Regions from separate parts of the Homo sapiens genome. Here region 2 is linked to region 1. Evidence: fine-mapped expression QTL. A gene starts in region 1. The other region holds a variant in brackets. All regions are shown on one strand. Distances are from middle to middle.

The links. PIP is the estimated chance that this variant, and not a neighbour inherited with it, causes the effect. A credible set is the group of variants that fine-mapping cannot tell apart.
Region 2: its variant is the best candidate, but not a certain one, in a credible set for the expression of SFN in lung (TOPMed, PIP 0.59).

Annotation. Positions count from the first base shown.
Region 1 is chr1:26,860,002-26,865,373 of GRCh38, forward strand. It overlaps SFN (stratifin), which reads left to right and starts at 3,148. Exons shown (of 1, transcript NM_006142.5): 1 at 3,148-4,455. The coding sequence starts at 3,212. The coding sequence ends at 3,958. RefSeq lists a silencer at 2,814-2,963 and enhancers at 2,833-3,712, 4,857-4,986, 5,197-5,372.
Region 2 is chr1:26,880,897-26,886,268 of GRCh38, forward strand. It overlaps GPN2 (GPN-loop GTPase 2), which reads right to left. Exons shown (of 5, transcript NM_018066.4): 3 at 5,077-5,237; 4 at 3,264-3,394. Among named protein-coding and RNA genes, the nearest start is that of GPN2, 6.7 kb to the right of the region's middle. The variant T/C (reference allele first, on the strand shown) is at 3,334.

The DNA.
Region 1 (5,372 bases):
CCGGGCATGGTGGCTTATGCCTATAATTTCAGCACTTTGGAAGGCTGAGGCAGGTGGATCACTTGAGGTCAGCTGTTCGAGACCAGCCTGGCCAACATGGTGAAACCACATCTCTACTTAAAAAAAAAAAAAATACAAAAATTAGCTGGGTGTGGTGGTGCACCCTTGTAATCCCAGCTACTCGGGAGGCTGAGGCAGGAGAATCACTTGAACCCAGGAGGTGGAGGTTGCAGTGAGCTGAGATTGTGCCACTACACTCCAGCCTGGGTGACAAGAGCGAAACTCCGTCTCAAAAAAAAGAAAATAATAATAATAATAGTTGCCATCCATTCTACTGTGCTTTCCATTAACTCGTGTAATCCTCACAAGTCCCATTTTATAGTTACAGGAACTGAGGCTCACAGAGCTTAAATCACTTGGCCAAGGCCACAAACAGCTATAAGAATTACATTTAGGCAGTCTGATTCCAAAGATACTAGTCTATTCTGTATCTCATAGACAAACAATACATATTCACTTTTTTGTTGTTGTTTTGTTTTGAGACGGAGTCTTGCTCTGTCACCCAGGCTGGAGTGCAGTGGCGCCATCTCGGCTCACTGCAAGCTCCGCCTCCCGGGTTCAAGCGATTCTCCTGCCTCAGCCTCCCGAGTAGCTGGGACTACAGGCATGTGCCACCATGCCCGGCTAATTTTTTGTATTTTTAGTAGAGACAGGGTTTTCCTGGGTTAGCCAGAATGGTCTCGATCTCCTGACCTTGTGATCCACCCACCTCAGCCTCCCAAAGTGCTGAGATGACAGGCGTGAGCCACCGCGTCCGACCTATATTCACTATTTATAAATTGGAGAGAATAAGAAAATCAAAAGGGCCAGGTGTAGTGACTCACACCTGTAATCCCAGCACTTTGGGAAGCCAAGGCAGGAGGATTGCTTGAACCCAGAAGTTCGAGACCAGCCTGGGCAACATGGTGAGACCCTGTCTCTACAAAAAAATACAAAAATTAGCTGGGCGTTGTGGTGAGCACCTTATTCTTAGGAAGCTGAGGCAGGAGGATCACCTGAGGCCAAGGAGGTTGAGACTGCAGTGAGCTGTGATCATACCACTGTACTTCAGCCTGGACATCAGAGTAAGACCCTATCTCTAAAAAGGAAATTGAGAAGAAAGAAAATCAAAGGGAAGCAAAATCACTCACTCTCACTACCTCAAGATACCCTCTAGAAGTTGGTATTTTAGTGTGGTTCCTATTGTTTTCTGTGTCAGTTCTCTGATTTGAGCAAAATCTTTGGGACGTCAAACTTAAAATCCCCTTTACTTCCTTGGAAACCCTGTAGCATTAGCCCAGACATGTCCCTACTCCTCCTTGTGGCAAAGAGAAGGATCTCGTCTTTGGTCCCCAGAGTTCTGGCCTAAGCCTCCCTCCAGGAGGGAAGATGAGTGTTCAGACACTCAGAGTAGCTGGGGGAGACACAGGCCTGTGAAATTATCCTGGCTCAACTATTAGGTCGGCAGAATCCCAGTGAAGGGAGCCCTACCTCTGAGCCCCATCTAAGCTTTGGCTATGGGTGGGGCAGATAAGCAGGAATCCATCCCTATAGGCTCAATGCCAACACCCTTAGGTGAAACTCTTGATGAAACTTGAGGCCAGGGCTCCGGCAAGCAGGGAAAGAACGTTGGCAACAGAGGTCTCCATCTCTGAGGACTCTGCCAGGGGTCAGAGATGGGGCAATGGTCAAAAGGAAGGAACAGGCCAGGCACAGTGGCTCATGCCCATAATCCCAGCACTTTGGGAGGCTGAGGCAGGAGGATCGCTTGAGCCCAGGAGTTTGAGACCTGCCTGGGCAATGTAGTGAGATCTGCTCTCTATTTAAAAAAAAAAAAAAGGAAAGAACAAGTAAACTTCTGAGAAACAGGCTGGGGGAGGCATCACGTAGCTGGAATTGCTGCCCCATAAAACAGAATGGTATGTGTCACTGCCACCTCCCTTTCTCAGTCCTCTCTCTCCCCAGGTTGCTAGCGTCCCCCCTGGGGGATCAAACTGGACTGCTTCCCAGCCTCAGACAGAGAGCAGTCTGAGTCAGGCAGGAAAGTGGGACAGCCGGGGAGCTGGACCCCACCCTCTGTGAGCCCCGCTGGTACCTGATGGCATGTGGCTTGGAGAGGGCAGGTGACCTGGCGTGGAGGGCCAGAGGGTAAATCCTCAAACAAGTGGCAACAGGCCACCAACTTGAAAGGGAAAATTGTGTAGTGATGGGAAATGTGTCCAACAAACCTACTGGGTGACTAATTACAAAGGCTGGGCTGGAGCTTCAGAGGCTGCTTGTTAAACACTTCATTAAGCGGCACTCTGAAAGCTGCCACCTGCGCATTCTGGGAGCTCAGAGGGGACCCTGAGGGGGAATGAGGCCTGGAGGATGGAACCATCTTCAGGTAGACTGAGAAGGAGCCTGGATCTCACTTCCAAACACAGTCTGGAGCTCATAGGTCAGAGGCCTCAATGGGAGAAAAGCTAAAGGAAGAGGGTGCAGAAAGGAGTTTCAGGGAATTGGTGGCTATGTGACTTTGAGCAAATCTCACCCCTCTCTGAGACTTAGTGTTCCCATCTCTATGGTCCTGTGTGTGTCACAGAGACATGGTGGGGATTAAATTCGATCGTGAATATGAAAGTGCTTGGGAAACTCCATGGCCCTACCTAAACATGAGTTATCCTCACCTGAACCAAGGGGGGAAGTTACCTGGCAGGATTAGGAACCCCATCCTCCTGAACCTTTATGGGCTCTGTCGAGGCTGAAGCAGCCAGGGGCTAAAGCCGTCCTTAGCCCCTGGAAGGGCACTGTGAAAGTGGATCTGATTTGAGAAGCCGTTTCCTGATGTGGGCAGCCATGTGATGCCAGCCCCGAACAAGAGGGGGCAGCCTGGAGCCTGGAAAGGTGCCAGTGCAGGTGGGGCCCACGCCCAGATTTCTCCTGCTGACTGTTCTGATGATTCACCCCCACATCCCAGCCTTTTTACCTTTACTGCAGAGCCGGAAAGGGTGTGGGGAAGAGAGGAGAGGGAGGCAGGTCTTGGGCCCTGGTCCCGCCCCCTGCTCCTCCCCACCCTTCTCTGGGCCTGGCCACCCAGCCAAAAGGCAGGCCAAGAGCAGGAGAGACACAGAGTCCGGCATTGGTCCCAGGCAGCAGTTAGCCCGCCGCCCGCCTGTGTGTCCCCAGAGCCATGGAGAGAGCCAGTCTGATCCAGAAGGCCAAGCTGGCAGAGCAGGCCGAACGCTATGAGGACATGGCAGCCTTCATGAAAGGCGCCGTGGAGAAGGGCGAGGAGCTCTCCTGCGAAGAGCGAAACCTGCTCTCAGTAGCCTATAAGAACGTGGTGGGCGGCCAGAGGGCTGCCTGGAGGGTGCTGTCCAGTATTGAGCAGAAAAGCAACGAGGAGGGCTCGGAGGAGAAGGGGCCCGAGGTGCGTGAGTACCGGGAGAAGGTGGAGACTGAGCTCCAGGGCGTGTGCGACACCGTGCTGGGCCTGCTGGACAGCCACCTCATCAAGGAGGCCGGGGACGCCGAGAGCCGGGTCTTCTACCTGAAGATGAAGGGTGACTACTACCGCTACCTGGCCGAGGTGGCCACCGGTGACGACAAGAAGCGCATCATTGACTCAGCCCGGTCAGCCTACCAGGAGGCCATGGACATCAGCAAGAAGGAGATGCCGCCCACCAACCCCATCCGCCTGGGCCTGGCCCTGAACTTTTCCGTCTTCCACTACGAGATCGCCAACAGCCCCGAGGAGGCCATCTCTCTGGCCAAGACCACTTTCGACGAGGCCATGGCTGATCTGCACACCCTCAGCGAGGACTCCTACAAAGACAGCACCCTCATCATGCAGCTGCTGCGAGACAACCTGACACTGTGGACGGCCGACAACGCCGGGGAAGAGGGGGGCGAGGCTCCCCAGGAGCCCCAGAGCTGAGTGTTGCCCGCCACCGCCCCGCCCTGCCCCCTCCAGTCCCCCACCCTGCCGAGAGGACTAGTATGGGGTGGGAGGCCCCACCCTTCTCCCCTAGGCGCTGTTCTTGCTCCAAAGGGCTCCGTGGAGAGGGACTGGCAGAGCTGAGGCCACCTGGGGCTGGGGATCCCACTCTTCTTGCAGCTGTTGAGCGCACCTAACCACTGGTCATGCCCCCACCCCTGCTCTCCGCACCCGCTTCCTCCCGACCCCAGGACCAGGCTACTTCTCCCCTCCTCTTGCCTCCCTCCTGCCCCTGCTGCCTCTGATCGTAGGAATTGAGGAGTGTCCCGCCTTGTGGCTGAGAACTGGACAGTGGCAGGGGCTGGAGATGGGTGTGTGTGTGTGTGTGTGTGTGTGTGTGTGTGTGCGCGCGCGCCAGTGCAAGACCGAGATTGAGGGAAAGCATGTCTGCTGGGTGTGACCATGTTTCCTCTCAATAAAGTTCCCCTGTGACACTCCTCCTGTCTCTCTTCCAGTTCTTGGCGATGGGCTGGGAGTGGGACTGGAATCTGACTTAGAGACCCTGACTTTGGACCTCTGAGTTAGGGCCCTGAACTCCCTAGGTGGCTCAGTGGCCCGCACGCAAGACTTTGAGTCCAGGTGAGGCCGGGGTCCGGCTCTCTCCATCACGGCGGCCCCAGTCAAACTGGACGGGACCGGGAGGGTCGGGTGAACCCACAGGAGGCGCCGTGGCTCCTCTGCCGGGCTGAGGGGAGGTGAGTGGGAGCCACGGCGCGGGAGGCTGACGAGCTCTGGTGGAGCGGGGCAGGAAATAGTGAAGTCTCCGGCGTGAGATCTAAGGACAGCGCCGCAGTAGTGAGCGGCACTGAGCACCCGATTTGCAGGCGGGTCACAGTTTCATCAAGGGCTCAGATCTCAGCGGAGGGGAGTACGATCTGAGGAAGGGGTATAGCGCCGCCAAAAAAGCCTAGATCTTAGGAGAGGGTCACGTCCCACAGAGTTCGGAGATGGAGACAAAAGGAAACGGGCTGAAGGGGAGGAAGGACGAGCTGGGTGGGAAGGGCCGCTGGGAGCTGTGCCTACCGAGCCCGCTGCCTGAGCTCTCTGCAGCCAGCAACACGCCGGAACCTGCAGCCGCCTTGCTCCGTCCCGCCTTCGCAGCCCTGGACTGGAGGCGGGGCCCGAGGCCAATACCGCCCAATCACAGGAGGGAGCTGCCCCAGGGTACCGCCCCGGGGGCCTGACTGGCCAATGGGAAAGTGAGCGGCGGAACGCGCGCGGCGAGTTTCCCGCCGCCCGCCAGGCCTGGCGGACACCACGACTCGCTGACTGACTGAGAGGCGCCCCCGCCGCCCGCTGAGCGCCGAGGGGCGGAGCTTTCCCGGTTTCACTCAGACAAGTTGCCGCCCGTCCG
Region 2 (5,372 bases), 21 kb after region 1:
CTCACGTGTCATGCCTCCATAAAGCTTTCCTTACCCACCTACCCTTCAGCAAAGCTGACCACTCCCTTATTTGTATCAGTCCCTACTCTCTTACAGAGAGCTGCTGAATCTTAAGGGGGTTAGGGTCAGGGCAGAATCTAAAATCAGCACAAATGTATATGGTTAAAAATACTCTTTAAAATTCCTCAAATTATTTGTTAAATGCAGCATACATGGTTTTGTGAATAGAATCCTTTATATATACGAATACATAAAGTAACGTACAGATGCTCCTTGACTTATGATGGGGTTACATCCTGATAAACCCATCCTAAATCAAAAATATCTTAAGTCGAAAATGCATTTAATACACATAACCTACCACACATCATAGCTTAGTTTCGCCTACCTTAAATATTCTTAGAACACTTACGTTAGCTGCATTTGGGCAAAATTATCTAACACAAAGCCTATTTTACAATAAAGTATTGAATATCTCATGTAATTTATTGAATACTGTACTGAAAGTGAAAGAATGATTGATAGGTACCCAAAGTATGATTTCTACTGAATGCATATAGCTTTCACACCATCATAAAGTTGAGCCATCATAAGTTGGGAACCATCTGTACGGTGTACAAAATACTACATTATTTAAATTGCTTCTCCCAGCCTAGGCTGTATGGTGAAACCCCATCTCTACAAAAATTAGCTGGCCACAGTGGCACACGCCCATAGTCCTAGCTATTCAGGAGGCTGAAGTGGGAGGATCACTTGAGCCCAGGGAGGTCAAGGCTGCAGTGAGCTGAGATCACGCCACTGCACTCCAGCCTGGGCAACAGAGTGAGACTCTGCCTCACAAAATAAACAAACATAAACTGCCCTTCCCAGCTGGGGACGATGGCTCATGCCTGTGATCCCAGCACTTTGGGAGGCTGAGGTGGGAGGGTAACGAGCCCAGGAGTTCAAGGTCGCAGTGAGCTATGATTGCATCACTGCACTCCAGCCTGGGCAAAGGAGCAAGACCCTGCCTCTAAGAAATAAATATAAAAGTTGCAGGCCGGGCATGGTGGCTCACGCCTATAATCCCAGCACTTTGGGAGGCCAAGGCAGGTGGATCACCTGAGTTCAGGAGTTCGAAACCAGCCTGGCCAACATGGTAAAACGCTGTCTCTACTAAAAATACAAAAAATTAGCTGAGCGTGGTGGCGGGCGCCTATTATCCCACTTACTCGGGAGGCTGAGGCAGGAGAATTGCTTGAACGTGGGAGATGGAGGTTGCAGTGAGCTGAGATTGCACCATTGCACTCCAACTGGGGCAACAAGATTGACGGTCCGTCTCAAAAAAAAAAAAAAAAAAGGGCCAGGTGTGGTGGAGCATGCCTGTAATCCCAGCTACTTAGGAGGCTGAGGGAGGAGAATCACTTGAACCCTGGAGTTGGAGATTGCATTCCAGCCTGGGCAACAACAGCAAAAGAAAGTCCATCTTAAATTTAAAAAAAAAATTGCTCCTCCCCTCTTTTGCTGAGCACATGCAGTCCAATTGGCCTACATTAACTGCAGGTGTGACGCAGCTCCTTAGTACCTTCATCAGGGACTGCACACTCTACTGCCATCATTTATAAGTCATTCCTCCAACCCCGACCCCATGAGCTTTGTTTCCCACATATGGCTCGAGAAACATCAGTAAGTGTTGGCTGGAATTATTTTCCTCTATACCCTAAGACTCCTGAGTCCCCCTTGTCTCCAGCATGCTGCATAGATGCTGAATCTGTGAGAGCATCAGCCTAGAGGGCCTGGACTTTTCTGTCCTGCTTCACGCATGGCCTCTGTGACCTGATGGACACCTACCCATGACCTTGGCTCCAGCCTCATTAGTCACTAACCAAGCTCCAAAAGTCTGGCTGCCTCTTGGACAGCTCTGGATGTCCCATGGACCCCTGAACACAGCACATCTGCCAGCTCTTGTCCCTTTCATCCATGTGACAAACCTGCTCCCTCCTCCTTTTCCTGCCTCAGTGATTAGTACAACCACCCACCGTCTAAGCCAGAGATCTGGGAAGCTAAGTTCTACTCCAGCTCCATCTATCCCATTCAGTCACTGACTCTTACAGTCTATCTCCTTAGTATTTTTCCATTCTACACCTTTCTTTCTATTCTCACTACAAATCTTTCAACCCTTCTCACCTAGCAAGACTGTAAAACTCTTTTGCCCCCAATCACGTCCCTTAAATGCATTTTCCACAATTGCAGGGGCTTTTCTAAAATGTACATCTGATTGTGTCACACCCTGTTCAACAGTACTGCTTGAATACTTGCTCCCACTGCCCACCCATGAACTGAAGTCCACATTCCTTAGTAGGGCACTCAGGCCCCTCCCTCGGCAGCCCTGCCTGTACCCCTGCAACGCCCTTTCCTCTTCACATGCAACACACCAGGAACTGGACTCCTGCATCTCTCCCGAATGACTAATGCCCTCTCATTTCTGGGCCTCTGTATTTGTTACTCCTATTGATCAATATCCTCTCTTGTCCTCAGTACAACCAACTCTGAAGCCAAGGGACCACCTTTGCACATGAGAGACAGTCATCAGGAAGCCCAACTGATCAATATGAAATCAGTCATCCACGGCCGGGCGCAGTGGCTCATGCCTGTAATCCCAGCACTTTGGGAGGCTGAGGCAGGTGGATCACCTGAGGTCAAGAGTTCCAGACCAGCCTGGCCAACATGGTGAAACCCCGTCTCTACTAAAAATATAAAAACTAACTGGGCACAGTGGCGCACACTAATACCAGCTACTTGGGAGGCTGAGGCAGGAGAATTGCTTGAATATGGGAGGCAGAGGTTACACAGAGCCAAGATTGCGCCATTGTGCGATCCAGCCTGGGCAACAAGAGCGAAACTCCCTTTCAAAAAAAAAAAAGAAAAAAGAAATTGGGTGGATCACAAGGTCAGGAGATCAAGACCATCCTGGCCAACACAGTGAAACCCCGTCTCTACTAAAAATACAAAAAATTAGCTGGGCGTGGTGGTGGGTGGCTGTAGTCCCAGCTACTCAGGAGGCTGGGGCAGGAGAGTGGCGTGAACCCGGGAGGCAGAGCTTGCAGTGAGCTGAGATCGTGCCACTGCACTCCAGCCTGGGCGACAGAGCAAGACTCCATCTCAAAAAAAAAAAAAAAAAAAGAAATTGGTCATCCACAAGGTTGATGACTGCACCTCCTGTGGCCATTCTTGAGTCCCATGTCTCACCCTCTCTGCTATGGCCAGGAAGCTGGCAAGGATACGAAGAGAAATGGAAGTCGGCTCCCATTGCGGCAGACATCATGGCTTCCAAGCTTCGCTGCTCTTGGGCTC[T/C]GAAACAGTATCCATTGGCTTTATCCACAGCCTGCAGGACTCGCTGGATGCTCTCCTTGTCCTGAGCAGGGAGGAGAGAAACAGTTCTGTGAGTGAAACAGAAGTATGTAAAACTGCTTGCAATCTCTAAATACACCTTCCTCCATCTTGCCTCTGTACCTGTAGCTTTCTTGGCCTGGAGTAGTTCTACATGTCCCCAAAGGCTGGATAAATCTCATGTTTCCTGACCACCAACTCACTCAGATTAGAACAGATAAGCTCCCCTATGCATATCCACAGTCCCCTGGGTTTACACCTATTGTACATGGTATCCCTGCCATGTAATAAACGCCTATTAACTCACCTGCCTCCCCTACTCAACTAAACACCCCTTAGGGCCAGGTCATCTGTCGCAGTATTCCCAGTGCCTGGCACAGTACTTCTCTTAAGTAGACATCCAATGAATATGCATGTTTTAAATCTATAACTGGGCCAGGCACGGTGGTTCACACCTGTAAAGCCCAGCACTTTGGGAGGCCAAGGCAGGTAGATCACTTAAGGTCAGGAGTTCAAGAGCAGCCTGGCCAACATGGTGAAACCCTGTCTCTACTGAAAATACAAAAATTAGTTGGGCATGGTGATGGATGCCTGTAATCCCAGTTACTTGGGAAGCTGAGGCAGGAGAATCGGTTGAACCCAGGAGGCAGAGGTTGCAGTGAGCCAAGATAACGCACTGCACTCCAGCCTGGGTGACAGAGTGAGACTCCGTCACAAAAAACAAAACAAAACAAAAAAAAACTATAACTGTTTCCTCATCCACATACAGTGATAAGAACAGTCCATATATCACATGGTGGGAAGGACAAAGCAAAATTATGTATGTGTAGTCCTTAGCACAGTGCCCAGCACAGAAAGCCATAAATAAGAGGTAATTGTTGTGATTGATATTATAGAGTTCATCTCCTCATATCAGAAGAGTGTGGCATTAGAAGGGAGGAGACAAGTTAGCTCAAGTCCACCCACTGCAGAAAGGAATCTAACATGCACCTGCGTCTCCCAGGTTATCTCTGCAGGGTAAAGGTGAGAGGCACAGGGGTTGGGTACCACTTTGCAAAGTCAACAGACAGTTGCCCAGTTGAAAGGGCTTAAGAGACTTGTCCCTGGTCCTGGTGAACTTTCTTGCTGATGACTTTCTGAACTCACCCATTTTCACAGAGGACAGAACATGTGAAGAGAGGATCCAGCAACACAAAATAGACAGGGCAAAAGTTTGGTCCACTCTCTTTACTGGAATTCTGCCCCTACAGCAGCCCCTGGTCCTGAAACTAAGGTTACTCTCAGTGATACTCAACCCAGGGCAAAGACCACTCTTTTTTTTTTTTTTTTTTTGAGATGGAGTCTCACTCTGTCGCCCAGGCTGGAGAGCAATGGCGTGGTCTCGGCTCACTGCAAGCTCTGCCTCACGGGTTCACGCCATTCTCCTGCCTCAGCCTCCTGAGTAGCTGGGACTACAGGCACCTGCTACCACGCCCAGCTAATTTTTTGTATTTTTAGTAGAGACGGGGTTTCACTGGGTTAGCCAGGATGGTCTCGATCTCCTGACCTCATGATCTGCCCACCTCGGCCTCCCAAAGTGCTAGGATTAGAGGCTTGAGCAACCGCGCCCAGCCGGCAAAGACCATTCTTTAAGCCCTCAAAGCTTCCTGTGCTTTTGGCTTGGTGAATCCCATGCACTGTCAAGAGTCCCGTCTTAGCCCCTAGTACCTGGATGTTGAGAGGGATAAAGGAGACAAGGCTATAGTCTTCGATGAGCTGCACTAGCTTCTCATTGAGCTGGCGGTAGTGGCGGAAGAAAGGGTCAGAAGCCAGGTGGTCAAGCAGGTAGGAGAGGTCCAGAACCTCTGTGTAGTAGTCCAGGTTGAAGGCTAAAGAGAGAAACCAGTGTTCAGGAGCAACCAGTATCAGGCTAAAGACCTGAGGACGAGGTTCCTTTTTCCTTTTTTCCTTTGTGCACTCATGCACTCAAATATTTCTTGACACAGTAAAATGAAGTTACTAAG